7 linked regions of the Homo sapiens genome follow. The protein of the gene in region 5 interacts with the protein of the main gene of each other region in a biochemical or structural test. Each region holds a gene or a part of one and is shown on either strand. Other genes may lie near its edges.

Evidence for each region.
Region 1: the proteins of RAMP3 (region 5) and LIMK2 interact in a test that uses a peptide from one of them, tested with the Homo sapiens proteins (one large-scale study listed by IntAct).
Region 2: the proteins of RAMP3 (region 5) and RAPGEF6 interact in a test that uses a peptide from one of them, tested with the Homo sapiens proteins (one large-scale study listed by IntAct).
Region 3: the proteins of RAMP3 (region 5) and SIPA1L2 interact in a test that uses a peptide from one of them, tested with the Homo sapiens proteins (one large-scale study listed by IntAct).
Region 4: the proteins of RAMP3 (region 5) and TJP3 interact in a test that uses a peptide from one of them, tested with the Homo sapiens proteins (one large-scale study listed by IntAct).
Region 6: the proteins of RAMP3 (region 5) and PDLIM1 interact in a test that uses a peptide from one of them, tested with the Homo sapiens proteins (one large-scale study listed by IntAct).
Region 7: the proteins of RAMP3 (region 5) and FRMPD3 interact in a test that uses a peptide from one of them, tested with the Homo sapiens proteins (one large-scale study listed by IntAct).

The regions. Positions count from the first base shown.
Region 1 is NC_000022.11:31,260,798-31,264,297, reverse strand, and holds part of LIMK2 (LIM domain kinase 2), read right to left. Parts: intron 2,165-3,500; coding exon 2,059-2,164; intron 1,704-2,058; coding exon 1,507-1,703; intron 1-1,506. UniProt on the Homo sapiens protein: Serine/threonine-protein kinase that plays an essential role in the regulation of actin filament dynamics. Acts downstream of several Rho family GTPase signal transduction pathways.
Region 2 is NC_000005.10:131,460,730-131,464,229, forward strand, and holds part of RAPGEF6 (rap guanine nucleotide exchange factor 6), read right to left. Parts: coding exon 3,312-3,500; coding exon of another isoform or gene 3,308-3,311; exon of another isoform or gene 2,884-3,307; intron 1,360-2,883; coding exon 976-1,359; intron 1-975. UniProt on the Homo sapiens protein: Guanine nucleotide exchange factor (GEF) for Rap1A, Rap2A and M-Ras GTPases. Does not interact with cAMP.
Region 3 is NC_000001.11:232,623,634-232,627,133, forward strand, and holds part of SIPA1L2 (signal-induced proliferation-associated 1-like protein 2), read right to left. Parts: intron 1-3,500.
Region 4 is NC_000019.10:3,748,849-3,751,313, reverse strand, and holds the end of TJP3 (tight junction protein ZO-3), read right to left. Parts: intron 1,177-2,465; coding exon 1,130-1,176; intron 733-1,129; coding exon 630-732; 3' UTR 501-629; downstream 1-500. Other genes in the region: APBA3 (amyloid-beta A4 precursor protein-binding family A member 3), read left to right, coding at 1-125, 217-409. UniProt on the Homo sapiens protein: TJP1, TJP2, and TJP3 are closely related scaffolding proteins that link tight junction (TJ) transmembrane proteins such as claudins, junctional adhesion molecules, and occludin to the actin cytoskeleton.
Region 5 is NC_000007.14:45,164,291-45,167,790, reverse strand, and holds part of RAMP3 (receptor activity-modifying protein 3 precursor), read right to left. Parts: intron 1-3,500. UniProt on the Homo sapiens protein: Accessory protein that interacts with and modulates the function of G-protein coupled receptors including calcitonin gene-related peptide type 1 receptor (CALCRL), calcitonin receptor (CALCR) and G-protein coupled estrogen receptor 1 (GPER1).
Region 6 is NC_000010.11:95,242,504-95,246,003, forward strand, and holds part of PDLIM1 (PDZ and LIM domain protein 1), read right to left. Parts: intron 1-3,500. UniProt on the Homo sapiens protein: Cytoskeletal protein that may act as an adapter that brings other proteins (like kinases) to the cytoskeleton. Involved in assembly, disassembly and directioning of stress fibers in fibroblasts.
Region 7 is NC_000023.11:107,599,652-107,602,701, forward strand, and holds part of FRMPD3 (FERM and PDZ domain-containing protein 3), read left to right. Parts: intron 1-651; coding exon 652-3,050.

The sequences.
Region 1 (3,500 bases), on a different chromosome or scaffold from region 5:
CTGCTGACCATGCCCACCAGAGCACACAAGGCTAGCTGCCCCCCTCCTCTGCATGGTGGCTCTACAGATACCTGGCCACTCCCAAATCTTCCCTTTTCCAGGCCATGGATTTCTAGCTCTTCCCTGCCCTCTGTTGCCCTGCCTCCCACTAATTTCATCATACTGACCAAGGCCAAGAGGCAATGGGAGTGAGGGCAGCACTTTAATGAGAGGGCACTGTTTCCAACACATGCCAGCTGAGAGGGCTCTAACTTACTCAGTTTGTTTGGTGAGGAGAGTGGATAAAAAAAAACAAACTTTTTTTTTTGGAGACAAGGTCTCACTCTGTTGCCCAAGCTGTAGTACAGTGGTGTGATCAAGGCTCACTGCAGTCTTGAACTCCTGGGCTCAGGCAATCCTCCTCCTCAGCCTCTTGAGTAGCTGGGATTACAGGCATGTGCCACCATGCCCAGTTAAGTTTTTTATTCTTTGTAGAGACAGGAATGTGGCCCAGGCTGCTCCTGAACTCCTGGCCTCAAGCAATCCTCCGGCCTTGGCCTCCCAAAGTGCTGGGATTACAGGTGTGAGCCACAGTGCCCTGCCCATCTAATTAAAAACAATTATTATTATTATTTTTTTTTTGTAGAGACAGTGTCTCACTATGTTGCTCAGGCTGGTCTCAAACTCCTGTGTTCAAGCCATCCTCCGACCTAGGCCTCCCAGAGTGTTGGGATTACAGGCATGAGCCACGGTGCCTGGCCAAGAACCTGATTCTTAGTGATACTAAGAATGTGTCACGTTTACTGAACACTGTCCCTATGGCAGCACTATACAACTTTATGTCCTTTTCCACATTTAATCCTTACATAATTGGTGAGACAGCCACCTTTATCTTACCATCTTATGTCACAGATGCAGAAACAGGCTCAGAGAGATGAAGTGATTTGTGAAGGGAGGAGCTCAGCCTGAAGCCCCAGTAGGGTATCAGTATTTCTGCCTGGGAGCCAGTGCTCTTGACTTCTTTTCTGTAAGTCTCCCTACTTGGGGCTTCCACTCAAGGCAACTTCTCCTTCCCCATGGACCTGGCAGAATCTGGGGTTTGGGGGTTGTTGGTCCCTCAAGTCTAAAAAAAACGTTCATTCATCTTTTGCTTTATTGTTTTCAAAGTCTTTCTACACAATTTATTCAATCCTATCTGTGCCCCTACTCCAGGCTCTGAGCTCCATGCTTTCTCCATAGGCCATGTTGCCCTTCAGGGTTTAGCATCACTGCCTCCTGTCCAGCTTAGGAGTTCAGTGGACAGAGACTGACTCTCAGGTTTCTAAGGAAACCTGGCAGACAGCTGGGTCCGCACAGGCTCTGGCTGTAAACTGTGATCCCCACAGGGGCAGCTGGGTCAGCACAATCCTCATAGTCTGTCCCTGGCCAGCTGGTTCCTTTCCTAACTCTGCAGGCTTCTGAAAGCCAGCTCAGCTTCATCCGAGAGACAGACATAGGACAGAACAGAGCCAGGGTGGGAGGTGGCACCTTAGGGAACGTCTCCTCAGTGTCCCCTCCAGATTCTCCTTGGTGTCCAGGGTGCTGAGGGCGTGGGGGTGTCCGGCATTCTGCATGTGAGGAGCGAGCCGGGCCTCCAGCCGCAGCTGGTCCAGGCGTTGGGAGACGGGGTCATGTTCAATCAACAGCTGAAGTGTCTGGCTCGTCTGGCTAATTGCATCCTCCACCTGTGGCCAAGAGCAGTATAAAGCTCCCACAGGCTGCCCCATCCCAGGCCACCCATGGCCAACCCAGATGACTCAGGCACAGTGTGGCCAGTGCTCAACTTGTCTAATGGTGGCCTTTAGCTGCCAGTGGCCTCACAGTGCCCTCTGCCTGGCATCCTGTCAGCTCTCCCGTCCATCAACCATCCCTGCTACCCTGGGAACCTGTTACGCTGAAATAGGTCACCAGTGGTCACAGGCTCAATGCTAAGACAAAGAGATGGGCTGGGGGTAGGAAAAGGTAAAGGCTACAGCCTGATTTCTCAGAGGATCTGTTCCATGTCCCACCCTCACAAGACAGATTAGACACACACTCTACCTCCTCCACTCGAAGTGTGCGGACGGGGGTCCCATTGATCTCCAGGATGCGGTCCCCAGGGTGGATGGCGTTTCGATTGTTGGGACTGATGTGCATCCGGTTGACCCTGGGCCAGACAAGAGTTGAGGCAGGGTAAAGATGTCCTAAAAACCTGCTTGACCAATTCTGCTTGTGCAGGGAAGGTTTACCAGGTCCCAGGCCACCAGTGGCCCCTAAGGGGCCCAGGATACCCACACAGAAAGGCAACACCTTTTCCAGGATGCCCCATCTCAGTGAAGGGAATTGCCACTCACCCTGTGGCCTAAGCCAGAAACTTGAACATCATCTTCCCAATCTGGAGTTCCCTCATCTCTCCTACTCCCATCTCTAAGAACTCTGCCTTCTTTCCATCATTGTAGTTATTCACATCTCTTACCTGGATCACGGTAATAGCTTCTATTTTTTTTTTAAACTTTGTTTTTAATTTTTATTTGAGATGGCATCTTACTCTGTCATCCAGGCTGGAGTGCAGTGGCATGATCTGGGCTCACTGCAACCTCCACCTCCCAGGCTCAAGCAATTCTCATGCCTCAGCCTCCTGAGTAACTGGGATTACAGGCGCGCACCACCATACCCAGCTAATTTTTTTGTACTTTTTGTAGAGATGGGGTTTTGCCATGTTGGCCAGGCTAATCCCAAACTCTTTTTTTTTTTTGAGATGGAGTCTCGCTCTGTCGCTCAGGCTGGAGTGCAGTGGCGTGATCTCTGCTCACAGCAAGCTCCGCCTCCTAGGTTCATGCCATTCTCCTGCCTCAGCCTCCCGAGTAGCTGGGACTACAGGCGTCCGCCACCATGCCCGGCTAATTTTTGTACTTTTAGTAGAGACGGGGTTTCATTGTGTTAGCCAGGATGGTCTTGATCTCCTGACCTTGTGATCCGCCCACCTCGGCCTCCCAAAGTGCTGGGATTACAGGCGTGAGCCACTGCGCCTGGCCTAATCCCAAACTCTTGACCTCAAGCAATCTGCCCACCTTGGCCTCCCAAAGTGCTGGCATTACAGGCGTGAGCCACTATGTCTACGTCTGGACTTTTCTTTTAATTAAGAAAAACAGAGACGGGGTCTTGCTATGTTGGCCAGGTTGGTCTTCAACTCCTGGCCTCAAGCAATCCTCCCACCTCAGCCTCCCAAAGTGCTGAGATTACAGGCATGAACCACCATGCCCAGCCTACAATAGCTTCCTAACTAGTCTCTATACCTTTAGGCTTTCCCCTCTCCAATCCAACCTCCATACCAGTGATCCTTCTAAAATGTTAACTTGGTCACAACACCTTGCTGCTTAAACTCTCAATGGATCTGCTGGATTTTCATAATCCAGGCCCTCTATACTTAACAGCCCCTTTTCTGGCCACACTCAACCTACATCAGACATGATTAAGACTCCTACTTTTGGAGAAATGCTTCT
Region 2 (3,500 bases), on a different chromosome or scaffold from region 5:
ATACTCCTAGAGTGTTCAGTTCAGTTGTAGACACTGGTTAATTTAATAAAGGCACATCCTATTACCATGACAGGGTCATGAATAAAGAGTCCCTATAAAGATTCTACTTTTTAATCTTAATCTACATGAGGAGTAGAAACAAATCATTATGAATTCTGTGGGGGATGTGTATAGGTAGGATTAGTTCAAGTGGAATTATGCTGCGATTTATAAGCACATCATGGCCTTAAAAATGGAGCTAACTACAACTCCTCTCCCTTTTAAAATTAAACTTGTTTTAAGAAGAATCCCTTTGTTGATCTACAGTGTGCTAAATAAAGATCAGAAAATAAATTACCTACAATTAACTTTTCATAATAAGTGGGAAGAAGGGAGTGGGAGAGCTCACGTAATTATCTACACTTCCTGGGCTTATGAATGTCAAAACATTTTTATTATTCTAACAGCCTAACTTGCTTGAGGAACACCACATCCAGTGAACCTCATGTAGTGCCTGGCAAACAGGAAGAGCTTACCAAATGGTTGCCATTATTATCAATGTTGTTGTTTCAAAATAGCAACTTTAGGTCAAAGTACTGATACCATACTGTGATTTTTCAGAGTCAAATCATAGTGAGGCAGGTACTTAAAAAAGCACAGTACAGAAGTCTAATGATAAAGACCAGCCACTGGGCACATATCCAAAGATGATATAATCACTCAAGGCGGGGGGTTGGAGATGAAGGGAGAGAAAGAAAAATTAGAAGGCAATCACCCACTTTCATTTACAAAAAAGAAGTAAAAGAAAGATGGAAGAAACAAAAATAGAAAAAGCCAATACCACCAAAATGGAAAATACATTAAATCTAACAACACTTCAATAAAGGCATATTAATTGAACATTTCTTTTCATAGGCATTGAATACCTAAGTAGAAAATCAGCTGCATGTAATGACAAAACCATACAGACATTTGTACCTATTTGTACCAACTTACCTTATTATTGCAAACATGGAATTGAAGTTCTTACATTCTCGACAATGAAGTGCAATTTTAATAAAATGCTTAATAATCTTCATTCGTTTGAGCTGATTTGCTTCAGTTAAAATTTCTGAGGCAACCCAGAATGTCTCTTGGTTTACAATGTCCTCAAACCTCTTCAAATGAGTATTTCCTGTTTTGGAATTTAACTTAAAAAGGTCATCGATGTACTCAGTCGGTTCAATATTACGAAACAAATCAAAGTCCCTCATTGACAGCTGGGTGGCCACCTCAATGGTACTGAGCTGCAGCATGGATAGCTGGCTTTCCTTAACTAGTTCTTGAGCATCTTCATCTGAACATAAGGTTTCTGTTTCCATGTTATTTTTTAAGTAATACCTAAATGGAAAAATTTTTTTAAATAAATGTATTCATAAATATGATTAAATAAGAGCACTTTTCCTTTTTGTCGTTGTAAAATATCATTTTACTGTTAATAACTTTTAGCCAAAAATATTAATTTACAGATAAAATGAAAAGTTAACATTTTAAATGAAAAGATTTTTGAGAAGTCTGTCTCTTATTCTACCAACTGGCATCTATTAAAGAGTAAAAATAATGTTGTTATGTCATGAACTTAATTATTTTATGAAACTATCTGTCAGATACTATTTTAGGTACTGGCCTTGCCCTCGTAAAGCTTTTATCTTACTGTTTTATCTGACAGAGGATTGGTACTATGTAAATATTTGTTTATGAATAGCATGAATTCTAATTAAGGCAAAATAAATTCCTGAATCAAGACGGTTAAAAATCTCTATTCAGAAGTTACTCCACTCACTTCCTTTTTAAATAAATTTCCAAGTGAAGCAAGAGGAATGAAATCTACAGAGGAGGGGAAACACTTCCACTAATGGTTTCTCCCTTGTTAAATACAAAACCTCATTCCAGCAAGTGGCACTTATCAGTTACCACACATTAAGACCTATATTTTGCTTTCTTCTCTTAAATCAACAATTCTACAGCACTTAAAAGTAAGAGACAGGAAACATCTTGTGCAGGGATGTTACTAAGGAAACGAGGTAATGTATCACCTGCTTTTACTTCGTTCTTTTCTAATAATCCAACTTGATTTAAGCCTAAGTTTGTATCCATCTATCCATCTATTTTTTACTGTCAAGAAACTCTTTTTTCTGCTTTTAGACTGTTCATATGCCTAAGACAATGCCATAAATAATAGTGCTGAAACTCATTATGCTATATATAATAATGTTTAACATTATAAGGTATGGTATACTTAGTAACTCATTTAATCCTTACAACATTCCCATGAGGTATATTCTACTATTACTATCCTCATTTTATGGGTGAGGAAATTCAGGTAGAGAAGCTACATATGACTTGCTCAAGGTCACATAGCCAGAGCTGGGATTTGAATGTGGGCAATCTGAATCCAGGGTCTATGCTCTTAACCACTATGTACAGCCAGCAAAACAGAGTTAACTCATTCTCATTTCACAGCAACCATGGCATGCAGTCACTGTAAGCTTTCTAGGGATCTTGTTCTACATATGAAACTGGGTTACCAAAAAGATTATTCTCAGAGTGGTTGAGTGTGGTAGCTCACACTCGTAATGCCAGCACTTTGGGAGGCTGAGGCAGGCAGATCACTTGAGGTAAGGAGTTTGAGACCAGCCTGGCCAACACGGTGAAACCTCGTCTCTACTAAAAATACAAAAATTCGCCAGGCATGGTGGCATGTGCCTGTAGTCCCAGCTACTCAGAAGGCTGAGGCAGGAGAACCGCTTGAACCTGGGAGGTGGAGGTTGCAGTGAGCTGAGATCGCGCCACTGCACTCCAGCCTGGGCGACAGAGGGAGACTCCATCTCAAAAAAAAAAAAAAAAACCAGAGTAAGGAACAAATGTACTACAGAAATAATCTAGTTTATTAAATAATTTTCAGAACACATTTTAAAATTTTTAAAATTTTCCTGCATATTCATTAAAGGAAAACTACTTAGAAAAAGAACTGTGAAAACCATGGCTTCTTTTGCCAAAGTACATACTGGCCATATTAAAAACAAATTTATAAATTAGTAGATACAGTCATTCAGATATATATGAAGATTTGTATCATTCAGCTTCCTCTATAAAAAAACAGGAACTAGATTATATCAGTGGTTCTAAGAGTTTATTTTAGCAGGAGTGACAAGATATTTTATCAAGCGTCTTCTGGAGTGAATTTAGGAGCACTAAAACATGATAATGTTTCTACTTACAATAGCTGTTTTAACAGGAAATCTTCAAAAGCACATCTACAAATAAGCACATCCACTAATAAGCTTATTCACCTTCCATTGAGTTGAATTCTATCAGCTAATTTGGAGAACTGATCTGGAAGTCTTCTCTGTTTTATGACACCCTCAGGAGTAACAGAAACTTCACAGAGAGAATATGTGTCGGATGCACCGGTCAAACCAAATTCATGAACAGCATGAAAAACTACTTCTTTAGCTGTGGTGTCTTTACTGATGATAATG
Region 3 (3,500 bases), on a different chromosome or scaffold from region 5:
AAACAGCTGAGTTCAATTAGAAACTTTCTAAGGAGAATAGCATCGCCATTACATTAACCTCCTACCCCTCAATAAATGAAACCCCAAACCAAGACCCACAAGCAATTCTGGAAGAAAACAGGCCAAAGTCAGAAATGTCTTCGGGAAAAAGAATAAATACACAGTAAATATAAGGCCCATCAAGAGTGGAGTTTGTCTTCCGCTTGCCTCACAAGACCCTACAGGCTCCCTAGAAATTCCATTTCTCAACTGCTATAAACTCTAACCAGTGATAGTACAACAGTGGTCTCTACACAGGGGCCACACATTTCAAAGATACAAATGCCCTTGAGATGCAGAGAAAATACTTCTACATCTATTTATTTTTAATATTAATCTTCTTAAAATGTACATTTGTTTTATGTCCATAATATCTTAGCACAGTAAAGTATATGTTTATACATACAGATATATTATACATATACACACACACAAACGTGCATGCAGATATGTATACATGTATACGCATACATACATGAACACTTAGACAATTGTGTATAGATGGGATGCACGTTGAAAAAAGTTTGAGAACCTTGAGAACCTGCTAAAAAGAAACCACTGTTTCTTGCATTAGGCCATTTAAACACCTGAAACAGGTAGCATTTGCCCTGTACAAAGAATCAAAACTATAATTCCTAAAATTACTTATTAGAAACTTCAATACGGAGAGGACAGTATCCCAAAGCTATTCCTGAACAATGTGAATACCCACTGTTCAACAAGGAACCAAATGTGTTATCAAAACCACCTCCAGAAGACAGTGAAAGTAGTTATGCTGACTTCACAGGACACTATGTCTTAAGCATTAACCAGAACTTTCTTTTAAAACTCCACACAATAGTTCATCTCAGCAGACATAATCTTTTATTCACCCAGGAGTTCTTACTTTCCACAATAACAATTTTTAACACTGGCTCTTTACCTAGATATTTTTACTTAAGAGTTTGAATAAACTACCAGATAGCTTACTTCGGACTGTTCTGATTTCTTGAGGAACTCAACTAAATGGGGATATTTCTCAGAAGATTAAGCAAATATGTAGAAGTGAAAAATATGGAGTAATCTAATGGGCAGAGTTCAAGACACCCCTTTTGGCTAAATGTTTATTAGTAAAATAGGAAGAGAAGTATATCAACCAATTAAAACAAAACCGGAAGAGACTGTGGTGTTCTTCCCCACTATCTGAAAGCAATTCAACACAAGAGAATACCAAACCAAAAAATAAGCTGAAGAAAGTCCAACAATATTCTGATTTTTCCTAGAAGCACTGCAGTTCCTAAGGCCTCCGGAGGTCACAGATCACAGTGTGACCCTAGTGTCTCAATCCAGTCAGTCATTTAACACATTTTCTTAATCATATGCAGAAGAGAGTGCTCGTTACTAGGGACACACTGAAAATGAACTCATTATTACTCAGCATAACTTGGTCAGTAGAACCAGCAAAGGAGGTTTGACACACTCTTTCAGGATATCCATGTGGAAAGGTGGAGCTATATGGGCTAGTTATAAGATATGAAGAGCATTAGTAGTTAACTATAACCGAGAGTGTGACTCCTTGTAAGCCTCGAGGGAAGCTTCCAGAGACACACTTCGTGTTGTTCAGCCAGTTTAACAATTTCATCACCGGCTTAAGTAAAGATATAAAAGAGTCTGATCTAATAATGTACAGACAGCATTTCTTTGGGAGGACAGGTAAAGGTGCCAAATAATATAATCAAATTCTAAAAAGCATGATGGAAAGAATCAGCTAAAATAAAGCAAAACCACAGCGCAATAAATGTTAGGTTTTGCAATGACATCAGCGCAAGATGGAAAGACGAGGTTCAATGGCAGCATGTGATTAACGGCTCGGCAGGTTTTAGCGAAAAGGAAACTCGTTGAGTCTGGCCACCAGAAAAGTAAATGCAAACTTGGACTACATCAGTGCAAGCAACATGCAACCTATGACAAGACACTCCTGCTGTACTCTACACAGGTCATGTTCACGGGTCACGTTACACCAAGAGCCCAACTCTGACAGAGACTGAAGGATTTGTTCTGTAGGCCACCAAGGCAGTAGAATTTGAATAAACAAGCAGAATCAGATTTCAATTCTATAGGCCAAAAAACTTTCTAGTACTCAAAACCATTAAAAGGTGGAAATCACCACCCGTTACTTGCAATGTTCAGGTATTACCGGAAGACCACTTACAGAGATTATATAAAAGGATCCAAATATCAAAGAAGGGTTAGTTGAGCTACTCAGTGATTTCTAAACCCCGGTCCTTAGTGAATTTTTCATTGACCCATGCAAAAGAAAAAAGTGTCTGTGTGGGGATAGATATAAATCCACGAGTGGGGTAATTTTAACACAGCTCCTCTCTGGATAGGAAGAACTCTCCTTTAAGTCTGACAGCATACATATTCTTCCCCCTTTCCCCACCTTTTCTCTTTTTTGGTACATCAAAAGGATTTTGACGAAATGCATTGACAATAGGTAGTAACTGCTGTTGTCAATTTTAAACACACTTATGTAGCAACATTAAATGCTGACATATCTGACAATCCCTAATATTTGCTTTTTTTTTTTTTTTTCATTTTACAGGTAGACGAAAACAAAAGGTATAGGAACAACATGACGAGACAATCTTTAAGGTCCTTTCTGGCCCAAAGGAGCATGACAACTAGACTCGACTTGCTGCATATTTTCTTCCTTCCTACCACCCAACTTGGCTATCTAGTACTGGGGGAGAAGAACGAACCAAGGAATTGGGTTGCACTAAATATGAAATCTCTCAAGAAGCAGAACCTCAACAGTGAGTCAAGATCTGGCTCCCTTCTACAGCTGCTGTTCTTTGGAACCAAAGTTTATGAATCCAGTTCAGAAAGGATCAAAATAATCTATGTCTAAAGTTGGGAAGCTTTTAAATTCCTACCACATTGTTACCACACTTTTAAAAGGAGTCACAGCTACATGCAACTGGAACACAAAAAGCAATTTCTGAATCATTGATTTCAAGGTAAACCAAGTAGCTATGACCCTCATGCAAAGCATTCACATACAAACTTACTATAGGCCAAGGCAAAGAAATGACATAATCATGAAAAATATAAACATCCCAGTCAGACAGGCATTTTCATTACTCTAATGCGTTCGTCTTAAACCTTAAAGAAACCCCAAATTTTGGTGCTGAAAGGGATCATGAAAATAGTTTCATCCAAATTCATTTGTGACAGGTGGTAGAGGCAGGAAGCTCAAGGTTCCTGTCTGTGCCTAAAGCTTTTTCTACTCTCACTCTGCAAATGAATTAGGCACATTAACAGAAGTAGAAAACCTAGAACATGGTTCACTATTCTCTAGGACTGTACTTTGTATTTCATTGAAGTTCAAAACAGAAAGAAAAAAAAAAGCAGCTTTTCAATTAACAATACCCTAGTCTAAATTTTCTTCAAATTCAGTGTGTCTTTAAAAGGATTTGTAA
Region 4 (2,465 bases), on a different chromosome or scaffold from region 5:
GTGGTGGCATCGCCGAGCGTGGGGGCATCCGCGTCGGCCACCGCATCATTGAGATCAATGGGCAGAGTGTGGTGGCCACGCCACACGCCCGCATCATCGAGCTGCTCACCGAGGCCTATGGCGAGGTGTGCGGGTGGTGGGTGGTGGCCAGGGGCGCCCCCACGTCCCCCACGAGCCCAGGCCTGCCCTGAGCCCCGTTCCGCCTCCACTCCCCAGGTGCATATCAAGACGATGCCAGCTGCCACATATCGCCTCCTTACAGGCCAGGAGCAGCCCGTGTACCTGTGACCACCTCATCCCTTGCCTGCCACTGTGCCTTCGCCTCCATGGCCCCGGAGCCCCATCCTGGGCCTGCCCTGGCTGGCCAGGACCCCAGCGGTTCTTGGTCCTGTATGATTTCCTAATATAAAAACAGTAAAAGCTTATGCATTTGGCAAAGTCTCGGATCAGGGTCTACGGGACCGAGGACCTTGTCCTTCCTGGAAGCCACTAGAAGCCGGTGCTGTGAAAATACTCTGTTTATTAAAGACCAGGCGGAGGGAGGTAAGGTTGTGGGTTCTGTATGGGAAACTGAGTCCCAGCCCCAGGGAGGGAGAAGGAGGACGGACCAGCTGGCAGCCTTCGAGAGGTCACAGGTCAGTGGCCGGACCCCAGTCATAGCCGTCTTCATCGGAGGACTCCGCATCATGTACTCGCATAAACTTTTTCTTCAGGGCTTCCCGTTCATAGGTTCTGGGGATCAGGAAATAGAATAGATGCTGTGGGTGGGAAGGGTGTGAGCTTTCTCACCATAAACTGAGGCTGGCTGTGCTAGGCACAGTGGGTGTGGGCAGAGATAAGCACATCTGGGCATTCATGGGTAGGGCCTTGTTAACAAACTCCTATGCATCCCTCAAAGCCCCAGCTGCAATATCCTGCCCTTCAAGAAGCCTTCCTAGGCCTCCCAGGAAGTGGATTCCTACTCCCTTGGCCCTGATTATATGGGGCTTAGAGAGGCTCTGGCAGGCTCTGTCTTCCCCACTAGGCTAGGGGCACCATGAAGGCATAGCTTGGATCTAGATCTGAGTCCGCAGAGTCTGAGTCCCAAGGGAAGGGTTGAGGGCCCCAATCTGGAATATGGGGTTCTTACCGCATGCTGTCCTGTCGCCACTGTCCCTGGGGGTGGCGGCTGTCCACCTTGGAGGAGAGGGAGAGAGGAGCTTCAAAACTCCCCCCAGAGCATGGTGAGTCGAGATCAATAACCACCTCCATCCCATCCCCCACCTTGGCCCGGGCCATGCTGCCCACTTGCTAACCCCGTGACAAGTCTGCAGGTCATCCCCAAATCTAAATGAGAAAACTGAGGCTGGGATAGGGGAAGGCCTTAGCTGAGACCTCCTAGCCTGTCAGCAAAAGGGGAATTGGGTTTCTCATCTGTGCAAGTCCTCACAGGGCCACAGCCATGAGTTCATGTACGTAAAGGACTTAGTACAGTGGCTGCTCCGTATGCAGCCTGCCATGGACAGTTGAGCAGGTTGGGTACTGCACAACCCCAGGAAAATCACTCTAATCAGAGATGTCATTGATTCATAGATTTTTACATTGACCTAGAGAGGGTGTGGAAGAAGATGCTGAGGCATATACACTAAGAGCTACATACACATTTGTTACTGTTAAACACCCAACTACAGCTGGGCGCTGTGGTTCACGCCTGTACTCCCAGCACTTTGAGATGCCAAGGCAGGAGGATCACTTGAGCCCAGGAGTTAGAGACCAGCCTGGGCAACATAGCAAGACCACATCTCTGCAAAAAATGAAAAAAAATTAGCTGGGTGTGGGTGGTGGTGCGCGCCTGTGGTCCCAGCTACTCCGGAGGCTGAGATGAGAGGCTCCCTTTAGCTCAGGAGTTGGAGGCCGCAACGAACTATGATTGTACTACTGCACTCCAGCCTGGGCAGCAGGGCAAGACCCTATCTCTAAAATTTAAAAAATAAAATATATAAATTAGATAGGTCAAGTTCAAAAAGACACGCAACTACTATGTGCCAAAACTTGGGCTGAGCACATTGAGTGCTCACCACCGCCCTGTGCCACCAAGTCTGATACCATCCACCCTGTGTCCTAGATGAGGAAACAGGTGCACAGAGAGGTTAAAATGTTGGCTGGAGGCCAGGTGCGGTGGCTCACGCCTCTAATCCCAACACTCTGAGAGGCCGACGTGGATCACCTGAGGTCAGGAATCGGAGACCAGCCTGGCCAGCGTGGTGAAACCCTGTCTCTACTAAGAATACCTTAAAAAAAAAAAAAAATTAGCTGGGCATGGTGGTGCTCACCTGTAATCCCAGCTACCTGGGAGTCTGAGGGAGGAGAAACGCTTGAACACAGGAGGCCGAGGTTGCAGTGAGCCCAGATCGTGCCACTGCACTCCAGCCTGGGTGACAGAGCGAGACTCTAACTCAAAAAAAAAAAAAAAAAAAAAAAAAAAA
Region 5 (3,500 bases):
AACATGGAGAAACCCCGTCTCTACTAAAAATACAAAATTACCCGGGCGTGGTGGCGCATGCCTGTAATCCCAGCTACTTGGGAAGCCTCAGGAGAGGCTTCCCAAGGCAGGAGGCAGGAGAATCGCTTGAACCCGGGAGGCGGAGGTTGCGGTGAGCCGAGATCGCGCCATTGCACTCCAGCCTGGGCAACAAGAATGAAACTCCGTCTCAAAAATAAAAAAAAAAAAAAAAGAACAAAGTTGTAGGACTCACACATCCCAATCTTACAACTTACAACATGGCAACAGTAATCAAGATAGCATGGTACTGGCATAAGGTTAGATAAATAGACCAGTGGAATAGAATTCAGAGTCCAGGAATACACCCTCACACTTATGATAAATTGATTTTCTACAAAGGTACCAAGACAATTCACCAGAGAAAGAATACTCTTTTCAACAAATGGTACTGCGACAACTGGATATACACTTGCCAAAGAATAAAGTCGGACCCTTCTCACCTCATACACGAAAATTAACTCAAAATGGATCACAGGCCGGGCGCCGTGGCTCACGCCTGTAATCCCAGCACTTTGGGAGGCCGTGGCAGGCAGATCACGAGGTCAGGAGATCGAGACCATCCTAGCTAACACACTGAAACCGCGTCTCTACTAAAAGTACAAAAAATTAGCCGGGCGAGGTAGCGGGCACCTGTAGTCCCAGCCACTGGGGAGGCTGAGGCAGGAGAATGGCGTGAACCCAGGAGGCGGAGCTTGCAGTGAGCGGAGATCATACCACTGCACTCCAGCCTGGGCAACAAGGCAAGACTCTGTCTCAAAAAAAAAAAAAAAAAGCATCAAAGACCTACATGTAGAGCTAAATTATAAAACTCTTAGATTACCCAGCTATTCGGGAGGCTGAGGCACAAGAATAGCTTGAACCTGGGAGGCCGAGGTTGCAGTGAGCTGAGATTGCGCCACTGCACTCCAGTCTGGGCAACAAAGCAAGCCTCTGTCTCAAAAAATAAATAAATAAAACTTTTAGAAAAATACAGGAGAAAATCTTTGTGCCCTTGTGTGAGAAAAAGCCTTCTTATACATGACACCAAAAACCCAAGAAACAAAAGAAAAATAGATAAATTAGACACGTCAAATTTTAAAACTTCTGTACTTCAAAGGATAGCATCAAGAGAGTGAAAAGACAACCCACTGAATGAAAGAAAATATATGCAAGTTGTATATCTGATAAAAGACTTGTACCCAGGTTACATAAAGAATTCTTACAACTCCATAATAAAGGGAAAAATAAAGCAATTAAAAATGGGCAAAGGATATGAATAGTCATTTCTACAAAAATATATATAAATGATCAATAAGCACATGAAAGACAATCAACATCATTAACCATCAGGGAAATGCAAATCAAACCACAATCACATACCACTCACACCCACCAGAATGGCTATCATCAAAAAGGCAGTCAGACGTGATAGCACACACTTGTAACCCCAGACATTTGGGAGGTTGAAGTGGGAGGATGGCTTGAGGAGTCCGGGGTTGCAGTGAGCTATGACTGCACCACTGCACTCCAGACTGGGCAACAGAATGAGACCCTCTCTCAGAAAAAAAAAAAAAAAGTGTCAGTGAGGACATGCAGAAATTGGAACCTTTATATACTACTGCTGATTGGAATGTAAAATGAAGCAGCCACGTTGGAAACTAGTCTAGCAGTTTCTCAAAATGTTAAACGTAGAGTTACCATATGACTACACAGTTCCACTCCTAAATTTATACCGCACATGTTCACACACAGATTTTTACATGAAGATTCATAACAGCATTATTCATAATAGCCAAAAGATGAAATAATGTCCATCAGCTGATGAATGGCTAGAATGTGGTATACCCATGTGATAGAATATTATTTGTACATAAAAGAGTGAAGTGCTAAAACATACCACTATATGAATGAACCTTAAAAACATTCTGCTGTGAGAGAAGCCAGTCACAAAATCTCACATATTATATGATGCCATTTACACTAAATGTGCAGAACAAGCAAATCTAGAGACAGAAAACATATTAGTGATTCCTTAAGGCTAAGGGGGTTGGAGGAAATAGGGAGTGACTGCTAATGGGTAGGGGGTTTATTTTTGTGGTGACAACAACGTTCCATAATTGAGTATAGTGATGGTTGCAAAATTCTAGGAATGTACTAAAAAATATTGATGTATACTTTAAATGGGTGAATTGTGTGGCATGTGAATTATATCTCAATAATGCTGGCTTTTTAAGGCATAATAAAAACTTTTTCAAACATACAAAAGGTGAAAGGAAATATCACCCACACACCCAAACTATAAGTAATGTTTAGGAAAGCCTATCAGAAGCCAATATGGACCTATGCAAAGGAATGGAGGAGATCAGAAATTTTAACTATGCAAGTAAATATATAGAATTTTTCTCAATGTCTAAATTCTGTAAAAAATAATAATCATGTATTGTGAGATTTATAACTTTGATTTAAATAAAATATATGACAGCAATGGCATAAAGTTCAGGAGGAGAGAAATGGAAGGTTCTTAGGCTATCCATGAATCAGTGTAATGTCACCTGAAGACAGATTGATGAATTAAAGATGTATACCATAAACCCTGAACCAACCACTGGAGTAACAAAACAAAAAAAAGAATTACACCCAATTAGCAAGGATGGAGGAGGAGGAGAAGGGCAAGAGGAAAAAGAAATGGAGTAATAATAATAAATACTAAGTCCAAAAGAAGGCAGAAAAGGAGAAAAGAGAGGAAAAGAATTGATGGTACAATGGTAGATTTAAATCTAACCATATCAATAATCAGATTGAAAGTAAATGGTCTAAGCACTTCAACTAAGAAGCAAAGATTGTCAAATAAGAACAAAAAGTAAGGTCCAACAGTAGGCTGCCAACAAGAATCCAACTTTAAATGAAAAGACTCAAATAGGTTCAAAATAAAAGAGTGGGAAAAGACACATCTTGCTACCACTAATCAAAAGAAAGATGGAGTGGCTATATTAATATCAGACAAAGTATGTTTTGGAGCAAAAAATATTACTAGAGATAAAGAGGGTCTTTTCAATACAATAAAGGGCTCAATTCATCAAGATGATGTAGCAATCCTAAATATGTATGCACCTAATAACAGCATCAAAACACACAAGGCAAAAACAGAACTACAAAAAGAAAATGACAAATCCACAATTTCACAATTATAATTGGAGAATTCTTTTTTTTTTCTTTTGAGACAAAGTCTCACTCTGTCACCGAGGCTGGAGTACAGTGGTGTGATCATGACTCACTGCAGCCTTCACTGCCTGGGCTTGAGCAATCCTCCCACCCCAGCCTCCTGAGTAGCTGGGACCACAGGCATGTGCCACCACACTCAGCTAATTTTTTTTTTGTTATTTGTAGAGACAAGATCTCATATTACCCAGGCTAGGCTCCAGTGATCCTCTCGCCTTGGCCTCCCAAAGTGCTGGAATTAC
Region 6 (3,500 bases), on a different chromosome or scaffold from region 5:
TGGTGAAACCCCATCTCTACTAACAATACAGAAACTAGCCGGGCATTGTGGGACGTGCCTGTAGTCCCAGCTACTTGGGAGGCTGAGGCAGGAGAATGGCTTGAACCCGGGAGGCGGAGGTTGCAGTGAGACGAGATCACGCCACTGCACTCCAAACCTAGGCGACAGAGGTCTCAAAAAAAAAAAAAAAATTCTGCCCTCAAAGCAGTGCCTCCCTCACCTCACCCTGATCCTGGCCCTTCCTAGAGGGATCTCAGAAGGGCCTGGGTGGGCATCTTCTCTAAGCATCATGCCTCAAGCATCCCAAACGGATTCCCTCATTTTCTGGCTGATGAAGCCATCTGGCTGCCTGCCCATGACAAGAAGGAAATGGCAGCATCTCTACATACCTGGGCAGTTTGCAAAGGCACTGATTGGGCTGAGAACCAGCTCAATGAGGTCGGGCTCTCTTATGCAATGGGCTTTTCACATTTCACACTTAAAGACCTGGAATCCACTCAATCCATAGAAAAATCACCAGGAAAGAAGAGAGGCTGCAAAAGGGTAGAATGAGAAAAAGCCAGGAGGGACATGAAATCTCCATTAGGTAGGAGAATCCACATCTTTTTCTAGAATGAAGAGACCTGACCTGGATAAAACTGGGCACAGCTTGGGGGAGAAGGCTGCCTGCCCAACAGAAGACTCACTGTGGCCTGTTCAGCCCTACAGTGCCACCTGTTGGCTTCAAGGTTTTTTCTCTCACATATCCAGCCAACACTGCGAATCCAGAGAAATCTCTCTTCCTTTCTTCTCAACTAGCTTATAGTGAAAATACTAGCTTCCTTTGAACTCCAGGCAACTACAAAAATTTCCAAATTTCTCTTCTTACAGTGAACCCTGTATCCCAAATATTTCTGGAAAAAAAGTGAAAATTAGCTAAATAAACCACAGCTGTTTTTCTGTCCACTTCACTGCTCAACAACCTTGCATGACTTCACACTACCTTTAGAATCAAGCTCATGATTCTTAACCTTGCACCTGGTGGTCCCCCATATCTAACTCGAGATCACCCAAGGATTCACCTGGAACCCTGGGTAACCAGCCAAAACGAGCCTCGGTACTTGCTGAACTAGTCTCCAGTTTTCTCATCTCAGAGCCTCTGGCCACCACTGTGTTTTCTCAGCCCATGACTGCTCCTTCCAAACCTCCAATCATTGAAAGTCTCCTTCAATGGACAGATGAATGGATAAATAAAATGTAATATACACAAACAACGGAATAATACTCTGCCTTAAAATGGAAAGAATTTCTGACACATGCTACATGGATGAACCCCGAGGATATTAAGCTAAGTGAACTAAGCCAGGACCAAAAGGACAACTACTGCATGACACCACTTATACAAGGTATTTAGAGTAGTCAAATTCATAGAGACAAGCAGGAGGGTGGTTACCAGGAGCTGGAAGGAGAGAGGAATGGTGAAATACTCTTTAATGGGAATAGTTTCAGTTTTGCAAAATAAAAGAGTTCTATGGATGGATGGTGGTGATAGTAGCACAATCACATAAATGTACTTAATACCACTAAATTGTACACTTAAAATTTGTTAAGATGGTAAATTTTATATTAAGTATATTTCACCATTTTTCTTAATATAACGGCTTCTTCTGCCTGCAAGTTTTGGAATTTGATCCAGAACAAGATGAAGGTGAGGAACCAAGGGCCCCTTTCTCCTAGTCTAGAAGCTGAATTTTACCCAAAATGAGACAGCTTGTGTTGGGTCTTCAAGGTTTATGACCAAATACTGCTGTAGCCAAGCTTCCTTCAGGGAGGGGCCTTACTCACTGTGCACCTGGCAGTTTACAGACGTGGCTTTACTTAACCCTGTAAACAATCCCATGAGGTCCTGGCTATTAGCTTCAATGGATCTGTGCAGAAACTAGAGCTTAGAAAGGCAAGCAACTTGCTGGAGGTGTCACAGCAGGTCAGAGGCAGATCCTGGATGCCAGTGCTCTTTCTGCCCTGCAGCACTGCTTTCTGAACCAGAGGCGTTTCTGAATGACAGGACCTCTCATCAACTGCTTTTACTACCTTAACCTTTCACCATTTTATCTCAAATAAAAACAGGCATTTGGGGCCGGGTGCAGTGGCTCACATCTGTAATCCCAGCGCTTTGGGAGGTCCAGGTGGGCAGATCACCTGAGGTCACAAGTTCAAGACCACCCTGGCCAACATGGAGAAACCCCATCTCTATTAAAAATACAAAAATTATCTGGGCATGGTGGTACACATCTGTAATCTCAGATACTTGGGAGGCTGAGGCAGGAGAATCGCTGCAACCTGAGAAGCGGAGGTAGCAGTGAGCCGAGATCATGCCACTGCACTCCAGCCTGGGCAACAGAGCAAGACCCTGTCTCAAACAAAAACAAAAACAAAAACAAACAGGCATTTGGGTTCCTTCCCCGAAGAGCCTTCTGCATGTAAAGAATGTTTAGAATGGAATTTATCCTGTTACTGTCAGTAAAGATTTAATGCGGGTACACAGTAAGAGATACAGGAGAAACTACAAGATTTGCTATCTCCCTCTTCCCTTCCAGCAGAATCTTGATTCTCTTTGGGGCAAGAACCATCCAGACTAAGGGCTAAAATTTTTTTTAAAAAGAATCCTAATTCCCAGACTCTCGTTTAACTAGGTGTAGCCAGGTGACTAAATCATGGTCAATAAAATGGAAGAGTAGTGTGGGACTTCTGGGAAGGAGAAAGCTGGCTCATCTGAAATTGGAACTCCCCGGTTAGCATTATCTCCCTTCTTCCTCCCTGTCACCTGGGGGTAAGCATGATGGTTGGAACACCAGCTGCTAACCAGGACCACGAAGTAACCTTGGGAATAGAAGCCACAAATTTGGGTGCTGGAGTGCCGGATAGGAGTCCAGATCTTGAAGAGCATGGAGCTTCCAAATCCATGCTCAGGTCCTTCTCTGTGAGCTGAGATGAGCTCTGCAGCATGTCTAGTTGGGCACGGATGAACTTGACCTTGCCTCTCATTGAAGGGTTTCACATCCACGTAAGAGTGAAATAAGTTGTGGTTTCTCACATGTTTTTACAAAGCTATCATCCTCAAGGGTTGGCCCCCAAGTTGTTTGTCAGGCAAAGCTAATACTGGAACTTGATACGAAGTATGGCTCATTACTTCCCAGCTGCTCAGCTACTCCAAGCAAAAGAGGAAAGCAGTGGTAGAACAGTATCATTTTAGCATAAAAGAAGCACATGCAAACACATGGCCCATGGTTTCCTAATTTCCTATGGTTGTAAACTGCCACTCTCTCTAAAGAAATCACACAAATGGGGAGGAAGCCCAGGTGTCGGGTGTGTTCAGAAGAGAACTTTCTTATCAGAAAGGGCTCCCCAGGAAGCTGAATCTTCGGCTGCGGACTTTGAGGAGGGAGGTTCATCTTCCAGAGGGCACAAGCCTCTCAGCCAACATGCCAATCCCTTTGCAGCCTGGCTGAGGCAGGTCTCAC
Region 7 (3,050 bases), on a different chromosome or scaffold from region 5:
AAAATAGTTGTGATTAGCATGCTGTTTTGCATGTGATTCACATGGTAATTTGCCATAAAACTGCCCAGATCCTCTCGCCACCTCTTTTGTTTCTGTTTTGGATTCCGGCCTTTCATCCCCTTCTTATAGCTTGCCCCTCTTTGTCCCCTCCCCTCCACTCTTCCCACCCTCAGCCCTGCATTCTCGCCAGGCCTGTCTGTTTTTCTCCAGCTGGAAATACTGCTGGCTAACCTTGGCTTCTATGCACTTCCTATATAGTCAGCCCTCTGTATCTGAGGGTTCTGCATCCACTGATTCAACCAACCGCAGATCAAAAATATTTGAAAAAAAGAAATATGTCTATACTGAACATGTACAGATTTTTCTTGTCATTATTCCCTAAACAACACAGTATAACAACTATTTACATAGCATTTACATTGTGTGAGGTATTATAAGTAATCTAGAGAGGCTTTAAAGTACATGGAAAGATGTACATAGGTTACATGCAAATACTATGCCATTTCGTATCAGGGACTTGAGCATCTGCAAGTTTTGGAATCTTCAGGAGTCCTAGAGCCAATCGCCCATGAATACCGAGGGACAACCGTGTAGAGCTGGAAAAGAACTTGATTTCAGTAAGCATAACAAGCCCTATCCCTGTTCCTCCAGGTCTGATTGTGCTGGCCACAATCACTCCTGAATCATCGCTGGACTCAGGTCATGAAACCAACTCTTCAGAGCTCACAGACATGTCAGAGATGATGTCGGCCATGAAGCAGCACCAGAACACCACCTACTTCCTGGCCCAGCACCTCAACAAGGACAGCCTCCTTGCCCGCAAGGACCTGCCCTTCCGGATCCAGAGCTGTGCAGCCCAGGCCGTTCTTACGGCCCCTTACTCTCTTGGGCGCCCGGATCCCAACCCATCTCTCCAACCCATTGCCACAGGCCAGAGTCCTGGCCCCCCTGGCGCTCGGAGGAAGCTGCCCCAGTCAGAGGGCCAGGTACAGGGAGAACGAACATACTCCTTGGCAGTGCACCCAGCACTGTCCCCACAGCTTAGTGAACAGAAGAATCTGAGTCTGCTGTCCCCAGTTCCTGAGGACAAAGGGCCTGGCCACACTAGGGCAGGCCTAGAAATGTCACTGAGGGCAGCCACATCATCCCTCAGTGAAGAGCAGGTCTCTGAGCTGAGGGACAACCTGCCCAAGGAGGTCAGGTTGAGCCCCAAGCTTATCCTCGACCCAAAGAGCAGTGTGACCCCTGCCATCATCTCGGCCGCCCTACAGCAAGTGGTTCACAATAAGAGTCTAGTCACTGCTGGTGGGGCTTTGGGGAACCCCCCCAGCAGGGGTGAGAGAAGGCTGGAGGCCAGCATGGGGAGGCCAGAGGTTAGCATGATGAGCAGCAGTGCCAGTAAGAATCTGAAGTTCAAAATTAGCCCCAGTGCTCCAGAGACCTCATGGAATTCTCAACATCAGCTGGGTGCAGAGGTCTCTTCCAGCCCCAGAGCACCCACAGGCAGCCGGGCTGACAGCCTGCACCTCTCCCAACAAGAGGACAGTCTGCCTGTTCAAAATTTCCCTCCCAAAAGCTATCTTTTGCGAACAAGCCGAGAGTCAGTGGGCAAGCAAGCTACAGGGGAGGTGGCAGGCAAAGGCGGGCCAGTGGGTGGTAAGCCCACCCTGCAGAAGCAGGGCACCATCTCCAGCCAAGGGGAGAAGGCGCAGCTGGAGAGCACACCCAAAAGAAGCAAGCTCGAAGAGACCAGCCTGGTTCCCCGAGCTACCTACCCCATGGCTCTGCAGAGCCCCAGCTGCCAGTCAAGAAGCCACAGCCCCAGCTGCCAGCCTCATGGCCACAGCCCCAGCAGCCAGTCTCGAGGTCAGAGCCCCAGCTGCCAACCTCGAGGCCAGAGCCCACTGAGGTCTCAGGCTGCCAGCCGGCAGGTGAGCACCATGCCCTCTAGGAAGCTTGAAACAACTCTCAATGGAGCCCACTCGACCTCTGAAGGCCCTGCCAAACCCAAGTCATCCCGAGGTCCTTTCCGGCTACGCAATTTATTCTCTGCCACCTTCCCAACCCGCCAGAAGAAGGAGACAGATGAGCGGCAGGCCCAACTGCAGAAGGTAAAGCAGTATGAACTGGAGTTCCTTGAGGAACTTCTAAAGCCACCAAGCCAGGGGGAGCTGCCAGGCACCGAGTACCTGCAACCTCCAGCACCTGGCCGCTGCAGCTGCCAGCTCCGCAGCAGCCCTGTGCAGCAGGGGCCTGGCATGTCCCGTGAGCAGAGGCGCAGCTGTGACTGCAAGCGCATCTGCCGGGGGGGCCGGCCACAAGCCACCCAGACACCAGTGCCCAGCCTCCGGGGGAGGGAAAGGGACAGAGTCCTCCCTAGCCAGAGGCAGCCAGAGGCTGGCCCAGGCGTGAGCCTCAGCAGCCCCATCAATGTCCAGCGCATTCGTTCTACCAGCCTGGAGTCCCGAGAGTGCCGATCGGACCCTGAGAGTGGTGTTTCGTGCCTGACCACGTGTGCCTCGGGGGGCGAGTGTCTGGGAGCTCCCAATTACAGGAAACTGATGCGCCGCTACAGTATCAGTGAGCTGGACCAGGGTGACAGGGCCTCGCTGACCTCGGATGTCTACCCACATCCTCCCCTGGGCATGCTGCCCAGGGAGGCCAAGGAGGTAGAGGCAAGCCTCCCCATAGCCTTGGGTCCCAAAAGCAGGTCTCTGGAGTCACCGACGCTGGGAGACCCCTCCTACGTCCAGGTTGCCCCAGAGACCAAAGGCCCCAGACAGATGGCCGTGTTCTCACTGCCCGAGGAGGTGTACCGGAAGCCTGCCGAGCTAGACGAGGACAGTGAGAGCAGCAAGTGCTGCTCCATCCGCTACTGCTTCTACTACCGCAAGTGTGACATGGCAGATGATGCCAGTGATGGCAAGGATGAGCTCTCCTACTCTATCCCCATGAAGATCCTGCCTGGCATGAAGCTGGACGAGCAGGTGGTGCCTGTGGTGAGCAGGACCCTGCAGGTGCTGGATGCTGCTACCTGCAGCAGCAGCAGC